2 separate regions of the Homo sapiens genome follow, and region 1 is linked to region 2. The links come from fine-mapping of genetic effects on gene expression. A gene starts in region 2. The other region holds a variant in brackets. All regions are shown on one strand. Distances are between the middles of the regions.

Region 1 (8,000 bases), 26 kb after region 2:
CTGGGACAGGGAGCTAGCCCTAGGCAAAGTAGCCGTCCCCAACCGTGTGGGCCCTGGGATCAGAAAACCTGGGTTCCCGGTATCATCGGTACTTGAACCCGCTGTGCAACTTCGGTGAAGTGACATCATTTCTGAACCTCAGTTTCCTAATCTACAAGATGGAAGAAATAATTTCCCTACCCAGAAGACATTTCATCAAGAGGCTAAAGAAGCTTGAGCTCAGGAGCCTTCTCTTGCACTGCAGCTTCCAAGCCCTGCACCTGGTTTTGTATTCATAAGGTTGAATTATTTTTTCTCAAAGAGAGCCCTCCAAATTGTGCAAGCTTCAGGCCCCACAAAACCCAAGTGTTTTCCTGTACTAGGTATGAGATGAAGAGAACAAATTAGCATGGTACCAATACCTTGTAAGCACTTAAGTCACCATCAGTGTTTACTGAGCATCTACTATGTGCCAGGTGGTGGGCTCCACACTGGGAACACAGTGGCAAATGAGGAAGACACAAATCCCTGTCCAGTAGGATCTCTCAGCCTTGTGAAGGAGGCAGAAGATAAGCTTCTACTTCTCTCTCTCTCTCTCTTTTTTTTTTTTTCAGACAGAGTCTCACTCTGTCGCCCAGGCTGGAATGCAGTGGCACCATCTCGGCTCACTGCAACCTCAACCTGCCTCTCAGGTTTAAGCGATTCTCCTGCCTCAGCCTGCCAAGTAACTGGGATCACAGGCATGCACCACCACGCCTGGCCAATTTTTGTATTTTTAGTAGAGACGGGGTTTCACCATGGTGGCCAGCCTAATCTCAAACTCCTGACCTCAGGTGATCTGCCCACCTCAGCCTCCCAAAATGCTGGAATTACAGGCGTGAGCCACTGCACCCGGACAAGGGTTTTAACTACAGAAGATGGTGTGGGGATATATAATCAGATTTAAGTTTTTAAAATATCCAGCTCTGTGTAATCCCAGCTACTCCGGAGGCTGAGGTGTAAGGATGGCTTGAACCCAGGAGGCAGAGGTTGCAGTGAGCCAAGATGGCACCACCGCACTCCAGCCTGGATGACAGAGCCAGACCCTATCTCTAAAAAAGAACAAAGAAAAAAATCCCACTCTGTGGAAGCAAGTGGCTGGTGGGGATGCTACTGCAAGGTTTATGCCAGAGACAGAGTGGGGGTGTGCAATAGGAAGGTGACAGCAGACAGATGCAGGGTGTGGTTAGAGAGCTGCCCACCAGATGGGCTGGTGGCTTTGAGATGGATTGGGTAGAGGGACCATTGCTGAGCTGGAGAAGCGTACATCGGCCAAGGGCAACAGTGCTTGTCAGTTCCCACTTGCTCTCTGAAGTGTGAGCAAAGCTCCTGGGAGAGGGGAGGGGCTGGAAGAAGAGCCATCCCTTCCTTTGTGTTTTGTTTTCTGTTTATTTCGCCCAGTGGTGTCTCCTGTGGCCTCCCCTTTGCACCAAGGTCTCTGCAGGGCACACTGAGAAGCACCACGTGGGGCCCCTGCTTGCAGGCAGCACACTGCAGAGGAGTGACAAGGTCCTATTTATGCCCCACCAAGTTGCCCAGCAGAGGTGACAGGCGTGTCCCCAGCTGCCGCAGTGACAGTCCAGGGTGCTGACCTTGCTGTGACGGGGGCAGTCCTGACAGCTCACACTTGGCCCTGGAAAGTTGAATCACCTGGTCCTAATCTCAATGAAATGGTGATTTGGGTTTATTGTTGGTGAGCTCCCAGGGGCTAAACACAGTTATCGAATGTGAGGAGGGGACACATGAATGGGAGGTTGTCTAATGGACAGGGCAGGGTGTTAACTCTAGCAGGGACACCTAGGAGACAAGGAAGAGAGGGTGTCGCTGATTCAGGCACCTGCGAGTTCTTTTTTTTTTTTTTTTTTGAGACAGAGTCTTGCTCTGTCACCCAGGCTGGAGTGCAGTGGCACGATCTCAGCTCACTGCAACCTCCACCTCCTGGGTTCAAGCAATTCTCCTGCCTCAGCCTACTGAGTAGTTGGGACTACAGGCGCCCACCACGACACCCAGCTAATTTTGTATTTTTAGTAGAGATGGGGTTTCACCATGTTGGCCAGGCTGGTCTTGAACTCCTGACCTTAGGTGATCCTCCCACCTCGGCCTCCCAAAGTACTGGGATTACAGGCGTGAACCACCACACCCAGCCACCTGTGAGTTTTGAGTAAAGCATGGGTGCTTGAGAGAGTGATCAGGACAGAAAGGAGAGTGTGACAAGGCTGAGTGGCAGGGACTTTGTCCTGGGGGTGCTAGGGAGCCTGGGGAGGGCTGTAAGCAGGGGAGGGGCCAGGTCCTCTCTGTGCTGTGTGGGGGATAGGCTGTAGGGGACAGACAGGAGCTCAGGAGGCTGGGGAAATGGTTGGTGGGAGGAGATGAGGCCTGAGCCCTGTTGGCCATGAGAATGGAGAGGAGAGGCCCAAGTAGCATCAGGGGCAGGAGCGTGGGGCTGGATACTGACAGGCTGTGGCCAGCGAGGGAGAAGGAGGGAGGAAGGGAGGACGGCAAATGAGGTTTGGGCCTGTGACTGGGTGGATGGTGGGGCTCCCATCATGAGGAGCGTGGGAGCTGGTCTGGGCTCAGCATGGGACATGATGAATGGCCTGAGGAGATGGCTGGGGTAGGTGGAGGCTTGGGCCTGTGACTCAGGAAACATTTAGGAGACAGTTTCTATTTGGTGGCTGAAACCACAGAAATGCCTGCGACGGCTCTCTTTGAGAATGGCTGCCTCCTAGGGGTATGGGTGTGCCATAAGACTATCTTGGAGATGGAGAAGCAGAGATAGGGCCAGAATAGGATGGGGTCAGATCTGGGCTGCACCTTGTTCCCTGCTGGTAGTACCCTAGGGTTTTTTTTCTTTCTTTTTTCTTCCTTTTTTTTTTTTGTAGAGACAGGGAGTTCAAGGCCAGTCTGGTCTTGAACTCCAGGCGTCAAGTGATCCTCCTGCCTCAGCCTCCCAAAGTTCTGGGAGTACAGGCGTGAGGCACCGCCCCAGCCTGATCCCCGAGTCTTTTGCTTGGCTGAGCCATAACCACGCACTCCCTTGTCCCCAGAGCCCTACAGCCCCGCCGTGTGGGTGATGATGTTCGTCATGTGCCTCACTGTGGTCGCCGTCACTGTTTTCATCTTCGAGTACCTCAGTCCTGTTGGTTACAACCGCAGCCTGGCCACGGGCAAGCGTGAGTCCCCCTTCCTCCATCCCCCGCCTCGGAGATCCCGAACCACAGAGACAGAGAACTACATTTCCCAGCAGCCCCTGGAGGGGGGGCGGTCAAGCTAGGGCCTCTCGGGAGGTGCCAGATGCCTTGAGGGCCACTGGGAATTGTAGTTCTTTCTTTTTTTTTTTTTCCCTTCCTTATTGAGAAGGGATTTGGGGTCCATGTCCACGTCCTGGCCCCCTGCAGGCCCTGGCGGTTCAACCTTCACCATTGGGAAATCCATCTGGCTGCTCTGGGCCCTGGTGTTCAATAATTCGGTGCCCGTGGAGAACCCCCGGGGAACCACCAGCAAAATCATGGTGCTGGTGTGGGCCTTCTTCGCCGTCATCTTCCTCGCCAGCTACACAGCCAACCTGGCCGCCTTCATGATCCAGGAGGAGTACGTGGATACTGTGTCTGGGCTCAGTGACCGCAAGGTGTGTGTGGGCCCAGGGCTGGGCTGGAG[C/A]TGGGGCTGGGGCTGGAGGTCACAGAGCTTGTCATGTGGTAGATTAGAGGGGATTCTTGCGGGGGGCGGGGGTGAGAGGGGTGGGGGGAGGGCGGGAAGGGGTCTCTTCCCAAGGAGAATTCCAGAATGGTAGAATGGAATGTTGTGGATGAAGAAAGAACACGGTTCACGATGAGCTATTTAAAATATTCCTAGGGAAGAGGGTGTCCCTGAATGTTCTAGGGGCAGTTGTGTCAAATAGGATATTCTAGAACCAGTGCTTCTCTCAAACTGTGAGGAAGGATTAATTTTTGAAACTTCTAAGGCTGGGCGCGGTGGCTCACACCTGTAATCCCAGCACGTTGGGAGGCCGAGGCGGGCGGATCACGAGGTCAGGAGATCGAGACCATCCTGGCTAACACGGTGAAACCCCGTCTCTTCTAAAAGTACATAAAATTAGCCGGGCGTGGTGACAGGCACCTGTAGTCCCAGCTACCCGGGAGGCTGAGGCAGGAGAATGGCGTGAACCCAGGAGGCAGAGCTTGCAGTGAGCCGAGATCGCCCCACTGCACTCCAGCCAGCGCGACAGAGTTAGACTCTGTCTCAAAAAAACAAAAAACTGCTAGTCCATTGCAGACAATGCTTTTGTAAAATTCAACGGAAATGAATTATTAGAAAAGTAAAATAAGATCTAAAACCAAGACAGACAAAAGTCAAACCTGGCCAGGAACGGTGGCTCACGCCTGTAATCCCAGCACTTTGGGAGGCCGAGGTGGGTGGATCACCTGAGGTCAGGAGTTCGAGACCAGCCTGGCCAACATAGTGAAACCTCGTCTCTAATAAAAATACAAAAATTAGCCAGGCGTGGTAGTGGGTGCCTGTAGTCCCAGCTACTTGGGAGGCTGAGGCAGGAGAATCGCTTGAACCCGGGAGGCGGAGGTTACAGTGAGCCATGATTACGCCACAAATAGAACTGATTCCTAGCCTGGGTGACAGAGCGAGACTCTGCCTAAAAAAAAGCCAAACTCACATTTTTATTTATTAGATTCAACAGACGAAAAAGAATTCTGTCAAATCACTCTAAATGCTCACTCTCTCCATTCCTGTACACATCTCACTGCAATCACCGTTTGTTGAGGGACTGGTGGTTTGCAGAGCATACTTTGAGACTAAAGTGATTAACTAGCTGGGTGTCATGACCTATTAGAGGCTTGAGAAATCAGTTTGATGGGTTGCAATAAGCATTTTTTAATGGAATGGAGTAGAATAGAATAGTTGCCTGCATCTTATGTATAAGTTTGGTTTTACAAAACTTGTTTTAGTTGTCTGGGCGCGGTGGCTTATGCCTGTAATCCCAGCACTTTGGGAGGCCAAGGCGGGCGGATCACCTGAGGTTGGTAGTTCGAGACCAGCCTGACCAACATGGAGAAACCCCATCTCTACTAAAAATACAAAACTGGCTGGGCATGGTGGTATGTGCCTGTAATCCCAGCTACTCGGGAGGCTGAGGCAGGAGAATCAGTTGAACCTGGGAGGCGGAGGTTGCAGTGAGCTGACAGTGTGCCATTGCACTCCAGCCTGGGCAACAAGAGCAAGACTCCGTTTAAAAAAAAAAAAGTGAACTATTTCTGAACGGATTGGTAAATAGCAACAGCTCCCAGCTCCTGCCATGCCAGCCTCTACTCCCAGGACCTCCCGCGATTCAGTAAGTGAAGACTTAACACCTGGCACATCAGGGGCCTCAGGGAGGCTTCTCGTGAACTTTTGGATCACGTGTCTGCAACCGTGTGTGCTGGGTGGGAGTGGAAAAGCATTCCCTAATGTAGTGAGCGAGTGTTGAGAAATATTGAACACTCCTGGGACTGGGGTGTCTGCCAGATAGCGGGTGTGTCTCAGAATGGGTGATTTATGTTAGGGATGTCCCTGCGGAGGGTGCCCTAATCACTCCCCATTCTGCCCCAGTTCCAGAGGCCCCAGGAGCAGTACCCGCCCCTGAAGTTTGGGACCGTGCCCAACGGCTCCACGGAGAAGAACATCCGCAGCAACTATCCCGACATGCACAGCTACATGGTGCGCTACAACCAGCCCCGCGTAGAGGAAGCGCTCACTCAGCTCAAGGCAGGGTCAGCGCAGACTCGGGCCGGGGGTGGGGGTTGGGCCGCTGGGGACCTGAGGATGCTCAAAGATGGCAAGGGGTCCAGGTTCATTCATTCAGTCCCAGAGGTCAGCCCTGGGTGGGTCAGCTTGGAGGGCGGAGGTCACTGAGGGTGGAAGTGGACTCCTCCTCCCAGGAGCAGGCTCCTTGGGATATTTTCTGGGATGCAGTATTTCTGGATTCTGGGGTGAGACTGATGGGGCTCAAATCTTTGCTCTTCCCCTTCTTGGCTTTGTGACCTTGGGCAAGTTACTCAGCCTCTCTGAACCTCTGTTTCCTCCTCTGTAAAATGAGGATAACAAGAGTATCCCCACTGTAATGATCATAAGGTTGTTACAAGAATTATACTAGTAAGCCGGGCACGGTGGCTCATGCCTGTAATCCCAGCACTTTCAGAGGCCAAGGCAGGCGGATCACAAGGTCAGGAGATCGAGACCATCCTGGCCAACATGGTGAAACCTGGTCTCTACAAAAAATACAAAAATTAGCTGGGCGTGGTGGCACGCGCCTGTAGTCCCAGATACTTGGGAGGCTGAGGCAGGAGAATCGCTTGAACCTGGGAGTCGGAGGTTGCAGTGAGCCGAGATCATGCCACTGCACTCCAGCCTGGCGACAGAGCGAGACTCCGTCTCAAAAAAAAAAAAAAGAATTAAACTAGTTAGTCCACTCAGAACATTTATTTATTTATTTAGAACAGTGCCCGGTGCACTATAGGTGTTTGCTGATATTATCATTATCATTAGACCTGAACTCACTGGAATCAATGCTTAGATTGTGTTTCTTATCTTTTTACATCCCTTTCCCAAATCATAGGGATGAAGTTAAATTCAGAGGCCAGGCGCAGTAGCTCACGCCTATAATCCCAGCACTTTGTGAGGCGGAGACGGGCAGATCACTTCAGGTCAGGAGTTGGAGACCACCTGGCCAACATAGTGAAACCCCATCTCTACTTAAAATACAAAAATTAGGCTGGGTGCGGCAACAGGCTCTTGGGAGGCCGAGACGGGCAGATCATTTGAGGTCAGGAGTTTGAGAACAGCCTGGCCAACATGATGAAACCTTGTCTCTACTTAAAATACAAAAATTAGCCGGGCGTGGTGGCGGGCGCCTGTAATCTCAGCTGCTTGGGAGGCTGAGGCAGGAGGATCGCTTGAATGCAGGAGGCGGAGGTTGCAGTGAGCCGAGACTGTGCCATTGCACTCCAGCCTGGGCAACAGAGACAGACTCCGTCTCAAAAAGAAAACAATACAAAAAAAGTTGAGTTCAGGCCCCAAAGTGCAGCCCACGAATACAACAAGGCTGAGCACAGTAACTCTCTCCCCGTCCTGCATTTACTCAGTCCTTCCGTGTGCATTTTTCTTATCCTCTGCTGTACGCTAAGCGGTGAACAAATAGACCCGATTCCTAGGTCTAGAGGTGGGAAATGAACAATAAACATGCAAACAGAAAAATCAAGATCTCTTCAGAAAGTGATGGTGAGCTAGAGGGCGGCAGGGCTGGGATATTTTCACCAGGGTGTTCAGGGTGGGCTTCTCGGAGGAGGTGACATTTGTGCAGAGCCCTGCAGGAGGTGAAAGAGCTAGCCAGGTGGACTTCCGGAAGCAGAGCCTTCAGACGGAGGGAACAGAGTGTGCAAAGGGCCTGAGGAAGGTGCAGTGTTGGTTTACTGGAGGAACAGCAAGAAGGCCAGTGTGGTTGAAGGGCAAGGAGCTGAGGTGAGAGAGTAGATGAGGGGAGGATTCTGGGCATGAGGCCAAGGTCAGGGCTGGACTTTATGCTAAAGGCGGTGAGAAGCCTTGAGGTGTGGAGATTTTACGTAAGGAAGGGTATGATCTGATTTCTGTTTTTGTTTGTTTTGAGACAGGATCTCACTCTGTTGCCCAGGCTGGAGTGCAGTAGTTCGATCTCAGCTCACTGCAACCTCCGCCTTCCCTGGGTTCAAGCAATTCTCCCACCTCAGCCTCCTGAGTAGCTGGGATTACAGGCGTGCACTACTATGCCTGGCTAATTTTTGTATTTTTGGTAGAGATGAGGTTTCACCATGTTGGTCAGGCTGGTCTTGAACTCCTGACATGAGGTGATCTGCCTGCCTCAGCCTCCCAAAGTGCTGGGATTAGAGGCGTGAGCCACCATGCCTGGCTTAAAAAAATTTCTAATGCCCAATGCAGTGGCTCACACCTGTAATCCTAAA
Region 2 (8,000 bases):
GCTGGGGGTGGGCTGCATGGGCAATAAACTAAGGCAGGGCGCCCGGGACCAGCCTGGAGGCAGCTCTGGAGTGCAGCTGTCCCCGGAGGCCTCCCCAGCCCGCCCCGCCTGAGCAGGGCCCTTTCCCACGGACCACAGCCAGGGGGCAGCCCAGGCCCCCGAAGCTACTCCAGCCCGAGGCTCCGTCCCAGACTAGGCCTCATGGCTACCCCTGGCCCCTCAGGGTCCTCCCGCAGTCTGGACCTGAGGTGAGGCCTAGGGAGGACCTTCCCTGACCTCAGGCCCCGGATCCGGTCACCTCCCTCCCGTTCCCTTCCTGGCCGCCACGGTCCACGTCACCAACTCACAGCCACCTCCCCGCCTGCCATGGTTCCCTGTTCCCGGTCCATGAACCCTCGGGCTGCCCAGATTGGGGCTGGGGGTGGCTGAATTGGGGGCCTAAAGCCATTCACATGAAACTGTATGCACCCCCGCCAGTCTGGGGAAGGGAGCTGATCCCCTGGAGACCCAGAACCTAGAAGAGAGATCCCCAGCAAGCAGTGGGGGTGGAACCTGTGCCCCTAGTGCCCCCAAACCCTTCCTGAGTCCTGCGACGTCCCCCAACCCCCGCCCGCAATCTCTCTCCTTCGCCAGCCCTGGTGGGCCTCTCACCGGCGCACGAGCGGGACTTCCAGATTTTGAGCAGTAGCAAGATGATGGCGAGGAGGTGGGAGAGGTCTCCCAGGAATCGGAAGAGATTCATGGCTGGGGAACCCTGGCAGGGCTGAGCGGGAGGGAGGCAGGCTGGCGGGGGGGTGCCCCCCGAGGCTGCTGGTCTGAACGGGTAGCTGGGCTGGGGGGACGGAAGAGGGACCCTAGGTGCGCTCCGCTCCGGGGAGGGGACTTTGGGAGGGGGAGCAAAGGCTGGAGCTGGCGGCGGAGCTGGAGCCGGGAAGAGGGAGGAGAGCGAGAGGGGGAGGAGTCCGGGAGGAGAGGCTCCGCCCCCGAGGGCGGGGCCTGGATCCCCGGCGCCCCCTATCGCCCACCTCCTGCTTTGCCGTGGCGGCGCTAAACGCACCCCCAAAGCTGCCCCATAGGAACTTGGGAGGGTCGCAGGGTTCGGAAAGTGCCAAATCCAGCACCGGTTCGCCCAGGCAGTCTGTGTCTCTGGAAGAGACGCAGTCCAGTACACCAGCCTCAGCCCTTGCAGGGATGTAGAGACTGCCCTCTGAGCTTGAAAAATCCTGCAGGGACCCGGAGGCTCAGCTGCTAGCTTTTGCAGCTTTCAGGCACTCTAACTCCAATCCCCCAGAAGACAAGAAAGATACCCCACCTACTTCCTCCCCTAGACCCAGGACTCAAGGCCCCAGCCCGTTCGTCAAACCCAGAAGTCTGGGTCCCCAGCCCCTCCTCCCTCAGACCCAGGAGTCCAGACCCCCAGCCTCTCCTCCCTCAGACCCAGAAGTCCAGACCCCCAGCCCCTCCTCCCTCAGATCCAGGAGTCCAGGCCCAGCTCCTCCTCGCTCAGACCCAGGAGTCCAGGCCCCCAGCCTCCTCCCTCAGACCCAGGAGTCCAGGCCCCCAGCCTCCTCCCTCAGACCCAGGACTCCAGGCCCCCAGACCCTCCTCCCCCAGATCCAGGAGTCCAGGCCCCCAGCCCTTCCTCCCTCAGACCCAGGAGTCCAGACCCCCAGCACCTCCTCCCTCAGACCCAGGAGTCCAGATCCCCAGCCCCTCCTCCCTCAGACCCAGGGGTCCAGGGCCCCAGCCCCTCCTCCCTCAGACCCAGGGGTCCAGGGCCCCAGCCCCTCCTCCCTCAGACCCAGGGGTCCAGGGCCCCAGCCCCTCCTCCCTCAGACCCAGGAGTTCAGGGCCCCAGCCCTTTTCCCTCCTAGGACGCTGTTCCTTGGAACTTAGGGTCCCACCCCCACCATCTTATGGATCAAACATCCTAACCTTAAGAATCTAGATCTACAGTTTCTCCCTTTACGACCCACAGATTTAGGCCCTGATTCTCTTCTTTTTCAGGAATGTGCACCTCACCCTGTTCTCCCAGACCTTGAGGATGAAGGAAACAGGAGCCTCACCCAGGAGGCTCAAGGCCAAAACTCTGACCCAAACTACCTCAGGAGCCCCTGGCCCTGGCTTCCCCCCTGCTCCAGAGTTTCTGCCCTGCCCACACACACACACCCTCTTCCACCCTCAGAGGCCCCGGTGTCCTGCCCCACGCTCTACCCCAGAGCCCCACGGGTGGCTTTATAAAAGTGCCGGGCCCAGCCCTCTAGCAGGAGGGGAATGCTGGGCATCTGGGTGTGGGACCCCCGGGGAACAGCCTGTGGTCTGGACTCCTGCATCTATGAGGGGACAGACGTGGCTTCCCTTCCGGATGATGGGGTACCCACAGATGATGGAGGCCAGGGTCCCTCAATAAAAGAAGGGGTGCAGGCGTGTTGATTTCTTCAGAGGGCTGGAAGGACGGGGTGCCCAAGGGTGACATCCACGAGTCTTGGGTCCCTGAGGGTGGCTTGTACGGGGGAGAGTCGGGATGACTGAGTCCTTAAAAGAGACTCCGACTTGGAGGCGGTCCCCAAATTCCTGGGTCCCAGTAGAGAAGGGGACTCCTGGGTCTGAGGGAGGAGGGGCTGGGGGGTGGGACTCCTGGGACCAGGGTCGAGACCTGGTTTTCAGGCCTGGCCTTCTGGGGCAATAAAAGCCACAGCTTGGGTCTTAGTGTGGCGAACACTGAAGTCAGGGAAAGGCCTCCTGTTTCCAGAGCCTCAAGGCAGGGCGGGGGCAGAGGGCAGCAACCCCCAGCCCTGGAGTCTAGCTCTGAAGCTGGTGTCTCCATACCGGGTTCTGAGTCCCTGCCTGCCTGTCCCCAGCCTGACTTCTTCCTCCCTTTTTATTTTCAGCCCCTCACTCCCTTGTCCCAGGAGGAAGGCAGAGGCTGGTAGCTAGGGGTGGGGGGCGGCCCCCTCCCCAAGCCTGGCAGGAGAAGGGGTCCCCAGGGAGGCCAGGAGGGGGGGCTGTGGGTCTCCCGGCAGTGGCAGACGGGGACTGAATGTTAATCGCATCCCGAGTGAGTGTGTGTGTGCGAGAACACAGCGAGTGTGTGAGTCCCTCCCGCTCCAGCTCCTCCAAGCCGCGGCCGCCGCCGCCACCCTCGCCCGCAGCCTCCCGCAGCCTCCCTCGGCCACCGGTGCCTGCTGGGGGTGTTGCCTGGGTAGGTCGGCCCGGCCCCCAGGGGTCTCTCGAGCGTCTGCCATCTGCCCGGTGAGGATCTGTGTGTCCGGGTGTCTGGGGCTGGCTGGTGGAGGGGGGGTGTGTCTGTAAGCGCTGCGGCGGCGGAGGGAGGGAGGGGTCTGTCTGTCTGTACCGACCCTGAGCTGCCTGCCTGGGTGTCGTGGGGCTCCCGCTCCTTCCCCCCGGCCCCCCCAAACCCAGATGGATGGTGTGTACCTGGGTTCTGTGCCTCCTGCCTGCGTCCGGCCAGGCGTCTGGGCGTCCCCGGCTGCCTGTGTCCTCCTGTCTGTCCAAACAGCCCCTATCAGCAGTGGCAGCCTGGCCCCCATTAGACCCCCCACTCTGTGTGTGTGTGTCTGTGTGTGTGTCCCTCCTCAAGCTCTGGGGGTGTTGAGGGGGAATCCCAGGGAAGTGAGATCGTGCGTGTGTGCGTGAGTGTATGTGTGTTTCTGCCTGTGTTTGAGAGTGGGGGAGTCAAGGGGGGGTCTAGAGGTGGCCAAGCGAGGAAGGGGCAAGCAGTTCCCCAAGCAGGCAATCTCCCGCTCCTCACACGCACACACCAGCCACTAGCTTCAGAGGTGACCCAGACAGACAGATAGACACAGACGCTGGAAGGGGGGGTGGGGGGGCTGAGGGCACAAAGCGGGGGTGCGAGTGAGCCAGGGAGAGGCGGGACTGGACACATGGAAAGGGGGGAGGAGCCGGGGCTGAAGCGGCAGAGGGGGGCACCCCGGGTGGGCGGAGGGGGGATCCCCACGGGGTCGGGGCGGCAAGAGGACACCCCGACAGCCTCTGCAATGTCCGGGGCCCAACTTCCAGAGCAACATGTGTAGCCACGTCCTCGCCTAGTCCAGGTGGCCGCAACCTTGGGGGAGAGACAGGGCAGGACAGGACCAAGGAAGAGGAAGGAGAGACGGAGCCAGGGACAGACAGGAGGTCCGGGCTGCCGCTGCTGCCGCCACCACCACTGCCGCCGCCCCGGGGCCTGCCCCCCGACATCGGCTCTCTGAGCCCTCCTCGGAATCTTGGGGTCGCTGGACGCCGGGTTCCGGTCCTGGCCCCCCCGCCATCCCCCCAACAGAACAGGGTCATGAAAAGGTAAGGCGGGGACAGGGGATGCAGGGATGGTGGTGGGAATGTGGACCCCCAAATCTAGGACAGAGGAAGTTGGCAAGAAGCCTCGTGGAGGGAGGGGGTTTGAACGGTGGGCAGGGGTCTTGACCCCCACCTAGCTCCCCTGTCCCTCAGGGACTCTCCTCCACCCTCTCTCTCTCCCTCTCTGAGCCCCTTTTTCCTGAGTCCCTACACCTCAGACCTTTCACGCCCCCATTTCTCTGACACTTGGCTCCCTCTCCCCATCCCCACATACCTGATGCCCCATATCCCTGTGCCTCCATCTCTCTATCTCACCTTCTCCCTGTACCCCCCTCCCTGCATCAGTCCCCCCATCGCGAGCCGGTCCTCTCCCTCTCTCCTCTCGCTCTCCCCTCCCATGTCAGAGCTATGAGTCTGCTATTAATACCCCCGCCAAGGACCTTGAGGGCATCCAGGCCCCCAGCACCCCTCGCCCCAAGCTCCCACCCCTTCCTCAAGGTTCTGGAACACCCTTCCAGCCTCTTCCAAGCATCAGGATTCGGGTGGGGAGAGACCGATGTTGTGTGTGTGTGTTGGGAGGTGAGGGGGGAGGAAACGGGATGCCGTCTGCAGCACAACTCGAGGTTGTGGGGGGAGCTGTTGATCGAAGTGGCCGCTCCTCTCTTCTCTGTTGGATGCTGTGGGGGGCAATGAAGACAGGGACACCCTAGGAATTTCTGGCACCCTCCTCCTCCTCCCCGCTTGGGGACAGGCTGTGCTATGTACAGGATCTAAGTGGGGTGACTAGGGAGGCCAGAGCTCGGTGGGGGGGCACCCAGGATGTTGGGAAGGATAGGGTTTGAAACCAAAAGGGGATCCTTAAGGGAGGACAGGAGCCGGAACCCGGACTCCTGGGTCCTTGGGGGAAGAGGGGAGCTGGGGACCTGGACTCTTGGTTCCTGCAGGGAGAGGAGGCTGGGCACTGGAGTTCCAGAGTCTTGGGGCAGGAGGGGCCTGGCCTCCTGGGTCCTGGGAAAGAACAGGACCGAATGCCCAGACTCCCAAGGCCTGGGGGAGGAAGGGGCTGCCAGAAGGACTCCTGGGTCTTTACGGGAGGAGGTAGGGGATAGCGCTTCCGTCTGAGGAAGGCAGGCTGGGAGCTCAGTCTCCTGAGTCCCTGACAGGGCAGGAGATGAGTGTTGGGGACTTTAGCCCTATGCAGATGGAAGTGGAAACGGAGGCTCATGAGGAGGTAGAGATGGAGGCGGGGGGAGCGGGGGGTTGTCCAGAGGCTGGACTCTGTGATCCCTGAGGGCGTGGGTTCTGGGGGTTGGGCCTTCAGAGTCCTGGAGGACTGGGGATGCCCCTCCTCAGGCCCTGGAGTGGGGGAGGCTGCTCTCCCTAATCCCTGTGGTTAGGAACTGAGCATGCAGCCCCCGTGAGAAGGGTGGGGCCGGGGGCTGCCCTCCTGGGCCTCAGTAGGGAGTGGGACGCGGGGTCCCTAAGAGCAGAAGCCAGGTAGGGGTGGGTCTGGGAGAGGCAGAGGAGGGGCTGGAGGGTGAGCAGCCACTGGGAATGGAGGGGAGCGTGAGTGTTAACCCCGCGGGGGCCAGGCCACAGCTGTGGGTTATTTTGGGGCGGAGTGGGGGGGTTATTCTGAGCGCTGATTGAGCCAGCTGCTTGGGGAAGGGCAATGGAAAGGAGGAGCGAAGAGAAGCCAGGATCGGGGAGGGATGGGCATACTAGGAGCCCCCAACCCCTTCCCTGGGGAGACAGGGGCCCGAGATCTCTGGGAAGGTGAGGTGGTGGGCAGAGGGGACGGGCTGTGGCCTCGAGGCAGGGGAGGGGTGGTGGACCTTTCCCCCGCCCTGGCTGTCTGTGGGGTGGACGAGGCCTGCGCTACCATGGCAACCAGACAGGAGCATGACAGCCAGGAGAGAACCCTTCCTTGTCTGGACCCTCACCCCTTCTGGAAGCCCCTAGTGCGGACTCCAGTCCTTCTCTGGGAACCAGGAGTCCAGACTCCCAGTGCCCTCCTCCCTCAGTCCCAGGCAGGACCCAGGAGCCTGGCTCCCAGCCCAACCACCCCAGGCGGCTAGTATTCAACAGGGGGCACAGGAAGAGAGGCTGTATTTCCTCTAATTTACCAAATTGCTCTGGGCTGGGTGCCAGGGACCCCCACACCCACCCCACCCAGCTCTCCACAGCTGTGCCCCCCAACCCCACATCCCAGATGGGGCCATGACTCCCTTGCTTTGAGAATGAGGGGATGGGGACAGGACTAAGGGGACAAAATGGGTTAGGGGTTGTGGTCAGGGTGAGGAGTAAGGTCATGTGGGGATTTTCTCTCCTTGGGGTGCCCCACTAATTTCTCTCTTTCTCTCCCCACACACCTGACCCCTTTTCCCTCTCATTTTTTCTCTCCCTTTTCCTCCCTTTTATTTCTGCTCCCTCCTGCCACTCGCCTTCCCCGCCTTACTTTCATGTCTGTACTGGGCACCTCCCTGGTGGGGGTCCCGATCTTGGCCTTGCTTCGCTATTTCTGTCCTCCTGTTTTCGCTCCGCTCTGCCTGCCTCCCTCAATCTCAATTGTTTCCCCATCCTTTATGTGCGCGTGTCTCTTGGTGGCCTTGGGGTCTCTGTCTCCCTCTTCCTGCCTTGCTGTCTTCTTCTCTGTCCAACTTTCTTGCCTCGCTTATCTCTCCCGCCTTCCTGCATCTCTTCCCGCCTCTATCATCCTCTCCCTGGGCCTCCCTCATTCCTGTTTCTGTCACTCCGTCCTCTCTCTCTCCGTCTTCTCCCCGTCTCTGCTGCTTCCGTCTCTCTCCTTCTTCCTGCCGCTCTTTCCCTCCCCGTCTCCCTGGGCCTCTCTCTGCTCCTATCTTGATCCCATCTCTGTGGGTGTCCCCATCCCCACCTTGTCTATCTTCCTCTCTCTCCCCTCTTACCTCTGTATCTTCCCCTGACCCCATTATCCACCCTCGTCTTTGCGTCTCCCCCAATCCCATACTCCACTTCTTCCTATCTCTGTCTCGCCCTATCTCTGCGTCTCTCCCTGTTTCACCTCTTCCTCTGGTGTTTCTTCCCCACCTCTCCCTTCCACCTCCCTCTGCTGTGTCTGTCTCTCCCTCTGTCTCTGCCTGTCTCTCCTCCATCTCTCTCTCTCCGTCTCCCCCTCTCTCTCCCCTCCATCTCTCTCTACCTCTGCCCGTCTCTCCCTCTGTCTCTCCTCCATTTCTCTCTCCCTCTGTCTCTCTCCCTTCCATCTCTCTCGTCCTCCGTTCCTGTCTCTCCCTCTGTTCCATCACCCCGACCGCTCCCTGTCCTCCCCATCTCGGCGCCTGTCCCTCGCTGCATCTCCTCCTCTGTGCGTCTCTTTATCTCGTCTCCCTGTCCCTGCGTCTCCCGTCTGTGCCTCCCTCTCCTCCCCGTCTCTCCCGGCCCGGGCGCTCAGAGGCCGCCCGGCGGGGCCCGCAGGCGATGCGCGGCGCCGGTGGCCCCCGCGGCCCTCGGGGCCCCGCTAAGATGCTGCTGCTGCTGGCGCTGGCCTGCGCCAGCCCGTTCCCGGAGGAGGCGCCGGGGCCGGGCGGGGCCGGTGGGCCCGGCGGCGGCCTCGGCGGGGCGCGGCCGCTCAACGTGGCGCTCGTGTTCTCGGGGCCCGCGTACGCGGCCGAGGCGGCACGCCTGGGCCCGGCCGTGGCGGC

The links. PIP is the estimated chance that this variant, and not a neighbour inherited with it, causes the effect.
Region 1: its variant is fine-mapped to the expression of GRIN2D in visceral fat (GTEx, PIP 0.92).

The regions. Positions count from the first base shown.
Region 1 is chr19:48,416,169-48,424,168 of GRCh38, forward strand. It overlaps GRIN2D (glutamate ionotropic receptor NMDA type subunit 2D), which reads left to right. Exons shown (of 14, transcript NM_000836.4): 9 at 3,066-3,191; 10 at 3,417-3,646; 11 at 5,617-5,777. Among named protein-coding and RNA genes, the nearest start is that of GRWD1, 26 kb to the right of the region's middle. RefSeq lists enhancers at 2,499-3,265, 3,016-3,255, 3,316-3,555. The variant C/A (reference allele first, on the strand shown) is at 3,676.
Region 2 is chr19:48,390,617-48,398,616 of GRCh38, forward strand. GRIN2D (glutamate ionotropic receptor NMDA type subunit 2D) reads left to right here and starts at 3,052. Exons shown (of 14, transcript NM_000836.4): 1 at 3,052-3,252; 2 at 4,042-4,320; 3 at 7,751-8,000. The coding sequence starts at 7,777. It overlaps KDELR1 (KDEL endoplasmic reticulum protein retention receptor 1), which reads right to left and starts at 935. Exons shown (of 5, transcript NM_006801.3): 1 at 652-935. The coding sequence starts at 742. RefSeq lists silencers at 772-1,091, 5,440-5,623, 7,879-7,978.